Regions from separate parts of the Homo sapiens genome. Here region 2 is linked to region 1. The links come from fine-mapping of genetic effects on gene expression. Tissue or cell type: whole blood. Region 1 holds a variant in brackets; the other region holds the start of a gene. All regions are shown on one strand. Distances are between the middles of the regions.

What was found. PIP is the estimated chance that this variant, and not a neighbour inherited with it, causes the effect.
Region 2: EXOC6 starts here. The variant in region 1 is fine-mapped to the expression of EXOC6 in whole blood (TOPMed, PIP 0.96). The same link has a PIP of 0.9 or more in monocytes.

The regions. Positions count from the first base shown.
Region 1 is chr10:92,918,137-92,926,241 of GRCh38, reverse strand. EXOC6 (exocyst complex component 6) reads right to left here. Exons shown (of 22, transcript NM_019053.6): 8 at 6,192-6,260. Among named protein-coding and RNA genes, the nearest start is that of EXOC6, 74 kb to the right of the region's middle. The variant T/A (reference allele first, on the strand shown) is at 3,078.
Region 2 is chr10:92,844,886-92,852,987 of GRCh38, reverse strand. EXOC6 (exocyst complex component 6) reads right to left here and starts at 4,468. Exons shown (of 22, transcript NM_019053.6): 1 at 4,354-4,468. The coding sequence starts at 4,454. RefSeq lists silencers at 4,022-4,361, 4,502-4,651.

The DNA of each region.
Region 1 (8,105 bases):
AGTACTAAACTGATGCAAATGGCCTAAGTATATCATACATTTTGATAATGAGTAAACCCAAAAGTACATTTTTATTGGAAATAAATATCTTAATAGAATGAGTGAGACTTTTTTTTCCCCCATTAATAATATACTTTCTGGTTCAAATTCTGACCTGCAGACTTAGGGCATTTGTTTTTTTTTTTTTTTAAAAAGTCCACCCTAAAACCTAAAATCTAATTATCAAAGCCAGTCCTCATGATCAAACTAATAAGTCAAATTGTACTAAGTGTCTCTCAAGAAAAGTCTGACTCCAAGTTTCACTTCAAAAAAAGTAAAGATGAGGCTGAAATCAGAGGATTGCTCAAGGCCAGGAGTTCATGATCAGCCTAGGCAGCATGTCAAGCTATCTCTTTAAAAAAAATTTTTTTTTTAATTAGCCAGGCATAGTGGCATGCACCTGTAGTCCCAGCTACTCAGGAGGCTGAGGCAGGAGGATCACTTGAACCCAGGAATTCAAAGCAGCAGTGAGCTATGATCTCACCACTGCACTCCAGGCTGGACAACAGCAAGACCCCATCTCTTAAACAAAACAAACAAACAATAACAACAAAATTACATCATGAAAACCACTGAGAAATTATGGGTTTACACCATAATATCACCAACGCCAGGTGCATTGGCTCACGCCTGTAATCCCAGCACTTTGGGAGGCCGAGGAGGACGGATCACTTGAGGCCAGGAGTTCGAGACCAACCTGGCCAACATGGTGAAACCCTGTTTTTACTAAAAATACAAAAATTAGCCATATGTGGTAGCACACACCTGTAATCCCAGCTACTTGGGAGACTGAGGCATGATAATTGCTTGAACCTGGGAGGCAGAGGTTGCAGTGAGCCAAGATTACACCACTGCACTCCAGCCTGGGCAACAGAGCACGACTCTGTCTTAAAAAAAAAAAAATTTATGGAATTACAAAAAGCAGTCAATATTATTTAAACCCAGTGTGATTGTTTTGTGCATTCACACCCTTAAAATCAAGACAATAAATCAGTTTCTCATTACTTATTCTGTTTTCATTACTTAATTTACAATAATGCAATGTAATATACAACTAAAATTCTAAGCTTTTATGAAGTAAGGAGCATAATAAACAATACTACATGCCTTCCATTAACATGTGGACATACATAAAACCTGTTCAACTTTTGGAAATAATTAAATACAACCAAGTATAAAAATCAGGGATATAAAAAAGGATAAAATAATATTTTTTGGAGCAACCTGGATGGAACTAGAGACCATTATCCTAAGTGACAGAACTCAGGAACAGAAAACCAAATACTGCATGTTCTCACTCATCAGTGGGAGCTAAGCTATGGGTATACAGAGGCATGTGGAGTGGTATAATGAACATTGGAGATTCAGAAGTGGGGTGAAGGATGAAAAAAATCACCTATTGGGTACAATGTACACTATTCAGGTGACAAGTACACTAAAAGCCTAGACTTCATTACTATACAATTCATCCACATAACCAAAAGCCACTTGTACCCCTAAAGCTACTAAAATAAATAAAAGTACATTAAAAAATGCACCCCTATTAATCAATAAATCAAACAATAAAATCAGGCATAACTCCATTAATTTCATTAGATATGATGACCATCCTTTTTCTGGGTGTTTAACAAAAGAGAATGGTATATGCTGCTAAAAATGAATAGCCAGGGTTTACTTTAAATATGAAGTAGAAAACATTAAACAATTGGACTTAGACTTATGACAGCTAAACAGCTTTACCCACTTTATCGAATCATAATGTACATGAATATGAAAAAATAAAGTTAGCCAGTGTAACTTAAAATTTTTGGCAGCCCCAGAAAACACTCCATTCATGTTTAAAAGATACAGCTTTACTAACCCATATCATTTGGCTGTTTAAAGGTGTTTTTCTTTACAGCAAATGATACATCCTAACGAAGAGTATTAAGATTAGTCAAAATCATTGTTTACATTTAAACACATAGGACATAGTTTTAGCAATCAAAATTCTCTGTGTTCTCTTTGCTCTACTCTCACAGGGACTCTCTCTTAAAAGCAATTACTTGTTGTCAATAGCTAGGGGGAAAAAGAACAGGTCATTAAAAGGAAACTATCGTTATTCCTACCTATGTCATTACTCCCTACTACATATCTAAATTCAGAATATCCTACCACAGGACAAAATATACTGTTCCTAATATGATTTACCCTTAACAGAAATTTGTGCAAAAATGGAAAGGAAGGAACTCCCAATACAGTTCCTTGATTAATAATTAAAGGAGACTTCTCCTTTATTTGGCACCCTGGAAGCTTTTACACCTCAAGACAATGCACCATGGTAGTACTGAGTATCAGTGAAGGGTATGATTTTCATTTATAAAGTAAACGTGGTAGCCTTCAAAACAGCCTCCAAAGATCCCCACCTCATGGTATTCATACCCTTGTGTGGTCCCCTCCCACAATGCACCTGAGTTCATCTATGTGATGAATAGGATAAAGCAGAAGTAATGGTATGTCACTTCTGAGATTGTGTTATAAAAGGAATGATGGCTTCCACTTTGGTTTCTCTCCTGGATGACTCACTCTGGGGGAAGCCAGCTGCCATGTCATGAGGACTTTCAGGCAGCCTAGTAGACACTCCATGTGGCAAGGAACTGAGGCCTTCTACCAGCAGCCATCATAGAGGCAAATCCTCCAGCCCCTGTTAAGCCTTCAGATGACAGCAGTCCTCATGACATCTTGACTAGAATCTCATAAGAGACCTGTAGCCAGAACCAGCCAGCTAAGCGACTCCCTGACTGCTGACACTGTGGAATAATAATGTTTGTTGTTTTAAGGCAGTGTGTTATACAGCAATTGATAACTAATATGGTCACTATCTTAGGTAGCTGTCCTAGGAACAGAATCTGAGATCAATGATAAACTAAAGAAATGTTGAAGAAGGAAACTGTTCAAGAAGTGAAGAAAGTGAAAGGAACAAGAGGAAGCCAACCAAGGGTACCATCTAAGGCAAAAAATTGTGTGCCTGATTCCACACTGCAACTTCAGAGCATAAG[T/A]TATACCTCAGTGTTGTCCTAATCTAGGCAAGGAAGCTAGGCTTTCAAACACCATATCTACACACCATAACTTATTAATCTCAACACTGGTAATCTGATGTGGGGTAGCTTCTAGCTGAAAAGGGACCCAAGGGAATCTGAGCAGAGCACCAACAGTAAGAGAAGAACTATTCTGAAGACAGGTTGGGCTTCCCAAACAGATCATTTTTAGAAAGAAAGCCTGGACCTAAAATTTATTTCCCTAAAGTTTCTAGCCCAGGGCCCCTTGGAAAGCCTTCACATACCCTTAAAAACTCCTAGGGCAGCAATTCGCACACTATATTTGGTATTCATCAGATAATTAGGAAATTAACTCATTCAATATTCAGTATTCTAAGAAAAAAAATGATCCCTATACTCAAAGTTTAGGATACAGCCAGCTAAGTAAAGTCAGAGAAGCTCTTAGGACTTCTCAAAGTCTGAAAAATGATAAGCTATGATAAGCTATATTGTGAATATTGTGTGCAGCATTTTCCAAAGAGAATCCCTTTTTTTGACATTATACCTATTTTCCTTTCATGGAATACTCATATTTGATCAAATAGAGTAGGATACCTTAGGATTTCGGACAAAGAGCTTTTTTGGCTAAAGTAGACTTACAGTCAACAGTCCTTGAAAGCATACATATTAATGTAACCCTTTTATAATAACCCCTTTAACATTTACTGCCTGATATTTTATACCAGGTCCTATACCAAGCACTTTTATTATTTATATTGACTATAATATCCAACATAGCCTTAGAAATTGTTAACCATATTTTGCAAATGAGGAACTCAAATAAGGGAAGTAATTTTCCCAATGCTATAATGCTGGGAAATGGCAGAACTGGAATAACAAGTAGAAGGAAGAAGAGTTGTAACAATAATAAGAAATTAGTGGCCGGCCACGGTGGCTCATGCCTGTAATCCCAGCACTTTGGGAGGCTGAGGTGGGCAGATCACCTGAGGTCAGGAGTTCGAGACCAGGCTAGCCAACATGGAGAAACCCCGTCTCTACTAAAAATACAAAAATTAGTCAGGCGTGGTGGCAGGCGCCTGTAATCCCAGCTACTTGGGAGGCTAAGGTAGTAGAATCGCTTGAACCCAGGAGGCGCAGGTTGTAGTGAGCCAAGATGGCACCACTGCATTCCAGCCTAGGCAACAGAGCAAGACTCTGTCTCAAAAAAAAAGAAAGAAATTAGCTTTACCAAATAATTTTTGGTTATATATACCAGCCAGAAGTTATTGTGCTAATGAAAGTTTATTAAATTTACAGCATAAAACAGTAAGACTATACTGTAAACTCTACCTCTACCAAAAATACAAAAATTAGCCAAGCATGGTGGCATGAGCCTGTAGTCCCAGGTACTTGGGAGGCTCAAGTGGGAGAATCGCTTGAGCCCAAAGAGGTCAAGGCTGCAGTGAGCTGTGATCACGCCACTGCACTCCATCTTGGGTGACAGAGCAAGACCCTATCTCAAAAAAAAAAAAAAAGAAAGAAAGAAAACAATAGCACAAAGAAAAGGGTATTAATCTAACTGAATTGTTTTAAAGTAAGATGTTAATTGCAATCCTCAGGGCTAATACTAAGAAAATAGGCTGGGCTAGGTGGCTCACACCTGTAACCCCAGCACTTTGGGAGGCCGAGACGGGTGGATCACCTAAAGTCAGGAGTTCGAGATCAGCCTGGCCAACAAGGTGAAACCCCATTTCTACTAAAAAAATACAAAAAATTAGCTGGCCATGGTGGCGGGTGCCTGTAAACCCAGCTACTTGGGAGGCTGAGGCAGGAGAATCACTTGAACCCAGGAGGCGGAGGTTGCAGTGATCTGAGATCATGCCATTGCACTCCATCCTGGGCAACAAGAGCAAAACTCCAGCACAAAAAAAAAAAAAAAAGGAAATGACAAAGGAAATGAAATGGTACATAAGAAAATATCTATTTAATGCACAAGACAGTACTAATGGAGGAATAGAGGAACAAAAAAGATATAAGACATGTTAAAACAAATGGCAAACATCAGAGCAGACATAAATCCTACCTTACCAGTAATTACATTAAATGTAAATGAACTAAACACTCCAATTGAAAGGCAGAGATCAGCAGACTGGATTTAAAAAAACAGACTGAACTATGTGTTACCTACTGGAGACATACTTTAGATTCAAAGATACAAAGAGACTGAAAGTAAAAGGATGGGGAAAAACATGCTATGCCAATAGTGCTCAGAAGAAAGCTGGAGTGGCTATACTAATTAAAGCCAAACAGACCTTAAGACAAAAAATATTATGAAGAAAGATATTTTATGATTTTTTTAAAAAAGGTCAATCCATCAGGAAGACATAACAATTATAAACATATATTCACCTGCCAACAAGGCCCTAAAAATACATGAATAAAAAACTGGCAAAACTGAAAGAAAAAATGGACAATTCAACAGTTATAGTTGAAGACTCCAATACTTCTACTTTCAATAACAGAATAGGCAGAAGACCAACAAGGAAGTAAAAGACGTGAACAACCCTATAAACCAACTACATCTAACAAATATCTATAGAACACACCACCTAATAACAGCCAGATACACATTTTTGATGTTTTGGGGGTGGTTGGAGGGGTGGGTAATGGGTATTTCTGGAATTAGGTAGTGGTAATGGTTGCACATCCTTGTGAATATGCTAAAACCACCGAATTGTATACTCTAAAAGGGTAAGTTTTTTCGTATGTGAACTAGATCTCAATAAAGCAGTTATTTTTAAAAAGGAACATTAAATCAAAAATAAGAGCAATGTAGTATGGAATACACATGTAAAAGTAACTTATAAGAACTGTGATGTAACAACAGCACAAAGGCAATAGGGAGAAATGGAAGTATACTATTACAAGGTTCTTAAAATATACATGAAATGGTATATCACTTGAAATTACACTATGATAAGTAAACAAAAAATGTAAGTGCCTTACACAGAGTGGATATTTCACAAAGAATTATGTGAAGATTTACAGCATATGATCAATTTTTAGGGCCTAAAATACATACATGCCTTTTAAATAATATAAAGCTATATATACATAAATATAAAACATACTTACCAAAACAGAATAAATGTGCAAACATCGATAAACAGGGGAAAAATCAACAAGATCCTGAACAGTTAAGATCTGAAAATTAAACCATTTTTAAAAAAATTATAGGTCAAACTATTAGACCACCATTAGATAATGTAAAGTTAAAGATAGGCAAGAAGATTCATGAACTTTGTGTTACAACATTTATTCAATTCCCCCATAGAAAGCATACACTATAAACGCAAAACCTTCTTTATTTTGTTTTGGCATTTCTTCAGCAGTTTATTCTTTGTAGTATGTTTATTATCACTGTGGACTGTTTTCAACTTAAGGTAACCAAGGAGAGAAATTGTATATTTTTAATATGTATGATAGATTACAGAAAACTGCTATGGATAACTAGATACCTTATTATTGTTTTGGGTAAAAATGATACACAGATTTCATGATTTGGCTATAGACAAAGTTCCTGTTCTTACGCAGCTATGTCATATGATTGGTCATTATTGCACTGAATTAAAGACACTATCAGTATTATTTTACAGACTGCTAAGAAAGAAAAAACACCACCACTTAAAACTATAACACCATCATCTTTAAGATGTATCCTATATTCTGAAATGTTATGTGGAAAAAAAAATGCCTTACAATTGATGAAATGTAGTACTATAAAGTTTCTCAAACTTGAGAAATACATAAACCCTTTTTAAAGGAACACATTTGTACTCATGTGAATCTCCAGAGTGAACTTAAATTATTTTTACTATAACATTGCTTATTAGGGAAAATGATAAAAACAAAATGTAGTGCAGTATAGTAGTAAAATAGATCTGAGAGAACAGGGAAACCACCAAGCTCCTCTAAATGTAAAGGTCTGGGGGTAAGGCATGATGGTGATGCTCCCAGCAGGAAAGATATACAGAACAGGAAGGGGAAAATTGAAGTAAGAAGACTAGATGGTCTATTTTCAACATTCTGAACCTCAAAGGAGAAAATAATACAGAGGTCCTCTGAATATTTAGAAAGAACAAAAAAGCAGAGGTCAAAAATATTTATTTAATTTAAAGGGACAAAAAACCTAATAATAATTTCAAGGGACTAATCAGGACATACTAATTCCACATTAGGAAGGCATTTAACTGTTTGAAGCTGTTCATTTGTCTGTATTCAGTACAATAGCAGACATTCACTACATACGCATATATATACATATATACACATATATACACACATACACATATGTGCATACATATTCACACAAATATATTACATATATACTACATATATATTTGTGTGACTATGTACATATGTATCACCTCATCCTCAGATATACAGCAGAAATGTACATAGTGGCTGGGTGTGGTGGCTCACGCCTACAATCCCAGCACTTTAGGAGGCCAAAGCAGAAGGACCACTTGAAGCCAGGAGTTCAAGACCAGCCTGGACAACACGGCAGTTCCCCATCTCTACAAAAAATATAAAAAAATTAGCTGGATATAGTATATACAGGCATGTGCCTGTAGTTCCAACTACTTGGGAGGCTGAAGCAGGAGGAGCATTTGAACATAAGAGTTTGAGGTTACAGTAAGCCATGATTATGCCAACTGCTCTCCAGCCTGGGTGACAGAGTAAGACCCTGTCTCAAAAAAAAAAAAAAAGAAATGCACATAGTAAACACTCAGCTGTTCACCCATTCACAAATGCAGTCATGAGCACATAGTCGTATGGTTCAACTAAAAATTCTTACTGCATCCCAATTATGTCCTTAGAAAAAGAATTTAAAATCTCATTGGCAAGGCAAAACTTATAAATTAATTGGGAATAACAAGGTTCCTATGATAGTAGCTAAATTTAAAAAAAAATTGAAAAGGACGATAAAAGGTAAGTTCAATAGAAGATTCTGTGGAGATAATTTTATTTATTTTTTTGAAATGGGCG
Region 2 (8,102 bases), 73 kb after region 1:
GATCACACAGTGTGCAAATAAAGACGGTTTTCCAAACTAGATGCTTTTTTTTTAAATGGTCTTATTATACCGGCCTTATATTCAACATTCTAGTACAGTGTTGAATAGAAGTGGTGAGAATGAATATCCTTACCTCATTCCTGATTTTAGAGGAAAAGCATTCAGACTCTTACCACTAAGCACAATTTAGCTCTAGATTTTCATAGATGCCCTGTTTTAAGCTGAGGAATTTCCATTACTAGTTTCTGAGGGTTTTTAAAATCAGGAATTAATATTCGATTTTGTCAATGCTTTCTCCACATATATGATCATACAACTTTTCTTTGTTTAATATGGTGAACAATGTTACATTGATTTTTCAAATGTTAAGCCAGCATCTTTCTTGAAATAAACCTCACTTGATCATGATGTATTCTTCACATATATATACACACACATATATACATATACAGAATATACTTTTTATATAGATGTATTTTATACTTTTAAATCCACATATATGGATTTAATTCTCTAAAATTTTTTGTAAAATCTGTGTGTATGAGGAATACTGATTTAGTTTCCTTTTCTAGTTATGTCTTTCTTTCTTTAGTTCTGGTATCAGGTTAATGTTGACCTCAAAATGAGCTGGGAAATATTCCCTCCTCTTCAATTTTCCAGAAAAGTCTTTGTAGAATTGGCATTAATTCTTCCTTAAAGATGTAGAATCCACCAGTAAAACTATCTGGGCCTAGAGTTTCCTTTTGGGGAAGGCTTATAACAGCAAAATTCCCTTTCTTTAATTGATACAGGGCTATTCAGCTATTTCTTCTTAAGTGAACTTTGATAATACTTTGTATCTTTCAACTAATTTGTCCATTTCTGCTAAGTTGCCAAATGTATGAGCATGAAGTTGTTCATAATATATATACATTTTTTGAGATGGGGGTCTCACTCTGTTGCCTAGGCTGGAGTGCAGTGGCACAATCTCAGCTCTCTACAGCCTTAACGACCCAGACTCTGAGCCATTCTCCCACGTTAGCCTCCCGAGTAGCTGGGACCACAGGCACACACCACCACACTTAGCTAATTTTTGTATTTGTAGAGACAAGGTCTCATTATGTTACCCAGGCTGGTCTTGTATGCCTGAGCTCAAGCAATCCTCCTGCTTCAGCCTCCCAAAGTGCTGGGATTACAGGCATGAGCCACTGCACTCAGCCTATTCATAATATTTCTTAACCTTTTTTTAATGTCTGTAGAATCTATAGTCACGTAACCTCTCTCACTCCCGTTTTTTTGTTTGTTTGGTTAGTTGGTTGGTTTTGTTTTTTTTTTGTTTGTTTTTGTTTTTGTTTTTTTAAGATGGAGTCTCGCTCCGTCGCTCAGGCTAGAGAGTAGTGGCATAATCTCGGCTCACTGCAACCTCCGCCTCCCGGATTCAAGCGATTCTCCTGCCTCAGCCTCTCGAGCAGCTGGGATTACAAGCGTGTGCTACCACACCCAGCTAATATTTTTTTGTATTTTTAGTAGGGACGGGGTTTCACCATGTTGGCCAGGCTGGTCTCAAACTCCTGACCTCAAGTGATCTGCCTGCCTCGGCCTCCCAAAGTGCTAGGATTACAGGCGTGAGCCACCGCGCCTGGCCCTGTTATTTTTAATTTGTATCGTCTCCTTTTCTACCCCTAAAGGTTTATCAATTTTACAGTCTCCTCAAAGAACCAGTTTTGAGTTTCACTGACTTTCTGTATTTCTGTCTCACTGAATACCACTCTGATCTTTACCATCTCCTTTCTTCCACTCTTCTGAATTTCATTTGCTCCTCTTTTCCTAGTTTCTTAGGCTAGGAGCTGAAGCCATTCTTTTCTAGTAGAGGTGTTTGGTGCCATAAACTTCTAACTATTTCTTTAGCTGCATTCACAAATGATATGCTGTGTTTTCATTTTACTCAGTTTAAAATACTTTCTAATTTCTCTTTTGATTTATTTTTTGTGTGTTAGTCAATGACCAAATATTTGGGAATTTTCCAGATAGTTTTTGTTTTTTTGTTTTTTTTAACTACTGATTTCTAATATACTTCTGTTGTGGTCAAAGAACCATGTTATATGTCAGGGCCTGCGGAAAGTTTATCACGTGCTTCTCAGGAAAAGATCAGGCTGAAAAATCCCGCCGCTGAGAAAAAACAATATAAATAAAATGATAAGTCTACAGGCCAGCTAAAAGATAATTAGGAAATAACAACAAAAATTAATCTTAATACTAAAATATTTATGAATAAATTGATGTCTTGGATTTCCTTCAAAATAATCCAAGATGATAGGGAGTAGATAAGGGAAGAGATCAAACAAGACTGGCCAGGGAATGAATTGAAGCTAGATGACAGTTCATGGTGGTTCATTACACTATTTTACTTTTTTAAACATTTAAAATTTTTCCATAATAAATGGTTTTTAAAAATGCAATATTAACACTTCACTTCGTGAAACCTGAAAAAAAAGGGAAAAAATAGTAGTAGCTTAAACAATGTTCAAGAGAAAAGACTGCTAGCAGTACCCTCTATATGTGTGCAAAAAGCGTCTGCTTATAAATGAGACACAAATATACATATATATGGGATAAGTATGAGTCACCAGGGATTGCTAAAGAAAAGAGAGTGGGTTCAAACAAAATGAGCCAGTTGAAACAACTGCCCAGCAAAAAAGAACAGAATAACACTATGAATACACATATTCTGTTCCTGAGTGTCCCAAAAATCTCTCAATATATTTCAAATTTTTCTTCTAAGTTAATTTCATCTTTTTTCAAGGACACTACCTAGCACATTTTCCTAAGATGAAGCACCTCCTTCATAACCAGTACTATTTTCACAAATAAACTACTCTAGTAACTTTATCACACACTGCACTCTCAGTTTCAAGATGCAGTGATGAAAACAAAGCTTCCTTTTAATCTTACTTCTTTCATTACCAAGTATACAGTTTATTAAAAGAAATAATAATGTTGGAAAATTAAGGAAATGCACTAATTATGCATTATCATATCATAGCAGAAACCTTATGTGACAAAAATTTATAACATGCCTACCACATGCTTGGTGTTAGGGATACAGTAGTGAACAAATAGGCAAGGTCCCTAATGTTCTGAGTTTCCTGGGCATCTGAATACTCTCCCCTCCCCATTCTACAAATAAGGAAACCGAGATCCAGAGAGGTTAAATAATTTTTTTCCATGACTGCACATTTCATCAGAGGCAGAATTAGGGCAAAACAAGAACCCAGGCCTCCTGACTCTTAAGGGCAAGGTGTATTTACATAACTTGAACTGGCTTCAATTTACACTATATTCACAGGTCCACAAACTGTACAGCGCTCTATTCTAGGAAGTGTATTCTGAAGAATACTAATGATAAAGCATAATCAGTCTCAAGTTCCCTAAGTGAATAATAACTTCATTTATCATTATTATCACTCCAAAAGATGAAACCTTATATGTAAAAGGAACTTATTCTTGAAGACAGTGCCTAACCTAACCCATGGCTCATTACGTTGCCTGGCTAATAATATTCTATTGGAACAGCAGGTACTCAGTTTGGCATGGAATATGCATTACCTAGTACTATTCTTAAAATGAATGGGGAGGAACTCGATTTAAACGGAAAAATTAATGCAATTTTAATGAAATGTTTGTAAATAAGTAAAAGCTGTTCTGCCTCCAAAGCAGCTTAGATCCCGCGAGCGCAGGGTCACCCTAGCGTGTTCCCAAGCAGCAAGCAGCTGCTCTCCTCCAGCCCACGCTCTCTTCTCCAGCCCACGCTCTCTTCTCGCCCACTGCGGCCGCGCGGGGGAGTAGGGGGAAAGCGGGCCGGCGTCTCCCGCTCAATTTCAATTCTCCCACGCCCGCGGCAGCCCGGCGCGCCAGGCTTTCCACCCGCGCGCGACCTGGCACCTCCGTCACGCCGGGTGCCTGCTGTCGACCCTAGCCTGGCATGCCCGCGGCCGAGCAGCCCTCAGCCCCACCACGAGCGAGACGGGGGCAGGCCCCAGAAGTGTCCTCGGGCCCGGGGGCCGCAGCCAGGAGGAGAACGCGGGGCCGCAGCGCGGGGCCCGGGGTTAGAGACCCTGCAGCAGCCACACCCACCGGCTGCGGGGTGACAGCTACAGCGGTGGAGGCAGGCCGCGCCGACAGGTGCAGCCGCCTTCTCGGTCCCGCCCGGGTACCGGCTAGAGTTCCGCCACCCGCGAGCGCCCCCGCCCGCCCCCGCGCGCACCACCTGTCGGGGAGCTTCGCGCGCGGCCGGCGGCGGACGCCCCGCCCGGCTCGTGAGGAGCGGCCGGCGTGGGGCGGGGGGCCGAAGTCCCGGTGGGATGAGATCTTTACCGGAGGGTGGGCCCCACACAGGCGGTGTCGGTGCTCTCGATCTCCTGCAAGATCCGCTCGTGCTCGGGGACGGTGCCCAGACTCTCGCTGTTCTCCGCCATTTTGGCTGGAAGCTGAGGAGCCAGCGAGGCGCGGCGCCGCGGGAACGACGGGGGCGAGCTCCAAGTGGCGCGAGCGCGAAGGGGCGGGGCGGGGGCGGGGCGCTCGGGCCGGCGGCGCGGGGGCGCGCGGAACGCCGGGCAGAAGGCGCGCGACCCGGTTCCCGCCCCCGCACCTGCAGGAGTGAGCGGGGGCTGTGAGCTGGGGCTACGGGCGGCGGCCGGGTACCCAGCTGGCCTCCTGCCCTCTCTCGCGACTAGTCCCTCCTGGGCGTCTTGTGCCTGGCCTTTGGGCTTTAACATATCTCCTTGTCTTCTGTGTGTGCCACACCCTGTGCCACACGCGGGGGTACCGTAGTAATCAGCAAGGTGGACACTCAGATCATCACCCTGAATCTGTAATAAGAGCCACGGGGACATTTAACAAGGGCCTGATGTACTCTGGGTCGTGGGGAGTCAGAGAAAGGAAAACATGCACTCACGAAAAGCAAAATTGCATGTGATAGTAAGATTTATTTTAGGAACGAATAAAGATCCCAGTTGACCATGAAGACCGCTCCAGGTGGATTCATGTCCCCGCCTGCAAGAAGTCCACAGCGGCCAGTCAACTTGGAAATAAATTATAAGCGACATAAAAAATTAAATGATGAGAAGTTAAGACACTTGATGGCAGAGATACCAAAAAAAAAAAAAAAAAAAAAGGCCCAGGGCGATGTGTAATTCATACCAAAGTCCGTGAACTCAGGTGCCCCCAGGTCAGAGTAGCTGGGTTGAGAAGGGGTGAGAGCTCTTGAAAGGGGGTTAGCAGCAGGGAGGTGGGAGAGAGAGGCAGGGAGGCTTGGACAAAGGTATCAGTGTAGAAAAAAGTCGTGCTTAATGACATGTTTGTGGGACACTGAGTAAACCAGTTTGTCATGATCAAAGCAGGGAGGAAGGAAGACTAAACAGGAACAGAATGGAAACCTAGCCTGAGGAACAACTACTTTCTGCTCTACATTAATCCAGGGCTTTGAAAAGCTTCCCTTTGAGTCAACCAAGCTCTTTATCCAGCTGTGTAACTCACTCACCCTTAGTGAGCTTTTACTTGAAACCTACCTCCAGCCTCCTCCCCACAAACATCCTGGGAGGTGGTATTGTGCAATAGTTAGAGCATGAGCTCTGAAGACCAGTGTCCGAAGACATTAATTCTTGGATTAATATCACTTGACAGCTGTGTGACATTGGGCAAGAACCTAGTTCTTTTATATGTCAGTTAAATGACTGTAAATGACAATGGCAGTGTCTGCCTCATATTGCTGTCCCATGGTGTATGAGTTTTCCATTGTTGCTTTAACAAATCACCACAAATTGAGTAGCTTAAAATGACTCAGACATATTATCTTACAGTTCTGTACGTTAGAAGTCTGTCACAGGTCTCACTGGGCTAAAAATCAAGGTGTCAGCATGTCTGTGTTCCTTGCTAGAGACTCTGCGGGAGAATTTGTTTCTTTGCCTTTTCCAGCTTCTAGAGGCCACCCACATACCTTGGCTTGTGGCCCCCTTCCTCCATCTTCAAAGCTAGCAGCATTACATCTCTCTGACCATTCTTCTGTGGTCACATCTTCCTCTGACTCTGACTTAGGCTGGAAAAGATGCTCAGTTTTTAAGGACCCATATGATTAGAGTGGACCCAACCATTTAATCCAGGATAATCTTCCATCTCAGGGTCCTTAACCTTAATCACATATGCAATACCCCCTTTGTCATGTAAAAATAACATATGCACAGGTTCCAGGGATTAGAATGTGAGCATCAGTGGGACCCACTGCCTACCAAACTTAGGAAGGGCCCTATAAAACATTGCTAATGCCCTCCTTCCTATTAATCTGGAATCTTCAGAGCAATGGATTCCAGCTATACACATCCATTGAGCTAAGACAGTCTTCCATTTCCTGCAGAGAGACCTAGCTTTTCATTCTTTTTGTGGGAGGGGATAAAATTTGTCTTCTTTTTTTTATGTTTCAGTTTCAATTTTCAAAAGGTTATTTTCCCCTCTCAAGAACTTCTTAGGTCGAGCACAGTGGCTCACACCTATAATCCCAGAGCTTTGGGAGGCTGAGGCAGGAGGATTGCTTGAGCCCAGGAGTTCGAGGCTGCGGTGAACTATGATAATGAGCAAAATGAGGAGAGCAGGGCATGTGGCACAGGCCAGTTTCCTATTTGACCAATGTCTCCAGCTGGGGAATTACTTTCCTGATCATTCCTTCCCTAGAACTCTACCCCTTTTCTTCACCAGTCCTGATACCTTTTATTCCAAAGCTGGCTCCAAGTGCCCCTGCTCTGGGAAACCAGCCCTGCTTAGGCACTCCTCAGGCCAGCCCTGTTTCAACACCTGCCCATAGAGATTACTTCAACATAAGCAGCAGTATCTTCCCCGAAATTCAAGTGAACATGGAAGGAAGTCCATTTACCACTTCTCCTTCTGAAACAGTTTTTGCTGGTTCCCTCTGAGACTTCTGACAGTTCCGTGAGTACCTGGAGGTTTTAGCTAAGAATTCAAAGCTAAATGTCCTAAATAACTAATTGCACATTTGTTTTGTTTGTTTGGTTGGTTTTTTCGAGACAGAGTTTCGCTTTTGTTACCCAGGCTGGGTAACAATGGCGTGATCTTGGCTCACTGCAACCTCCGCCTCCTGGGTTCAAGTGATTCTCCTGCCTCAGCCTCCGGAGTAGCTGGGATTACAGGCACGTGCCACCACGCCCAGCTAATTTTGTATTTTTAGTAGAGACTGGGTTTCTCCATGTTGGTCAGGCTGGTCTCAAACTCCCGACCTCAGGTGATCTGCCCGCCTCGGCCTCCTAAAGTGTTGGGATTACAGGCGTGAGCCACCGTCCCCGGCCCTAACTGTACATTTTAATCATGGACATAGATATATCAAATATGTCAATGTGGGGTGGGGGAAGCCTATCCAAGGGATAAATGATTTTTTTTTTTTTTTTTTTTTGAGATGGAGTCTCTCTCTGTTGCCCAGGCTGGAGTGCAGTGGTGCGATCTTGGCTCACTGCAACCTCTGCCTCCCGCTTTCAAGCGATTCTCCTGCCTCAGTCTCCTGAGTAGCTGGGATTACAGGTACATGTCACCACATCCAGCTAATTTTTGTATTTATAGTAGAGATGGGCTTTCACCATGTTGGCCAGGCTGGTCTCACACTCCTTCCCTAAAGTGATTGCCCTGACTTGGCCTTCTGAAGTGCTGGGATTACAGGCATGAGCCACCACGCCCAGCCCCAAGGAGTGAATGATTTAACGTCTGCACTGAGAAGGTTGCGGAGTAGCAGGGCACAGACAGGCAGATTGCAGATGCATGTGGAATTATTTTTTGGCAGTGGATATTGACTTCCAGAGATCAATCCAAAATCTCTTTTCAGGACTCCTGGAAGAAGAAAGATACACCAGGAAGACCAGCAGGACAGGAGATGCATTTTGTGTCCAGTATAAAAGTAATTGGCAAAGTAAGGATTTGACTTGTAAATAAACTCTTAGTCATTAGGAACTTAACTTTGCGCCTTTTATCTACAGACTAATGACCTGTCTTGGGAAAGCGCCTCCCTCAGAATGAGGTTGTAGAGTGCAACTGCTCTGGTCTGGCATTTAACTACTTGAATTCAAATT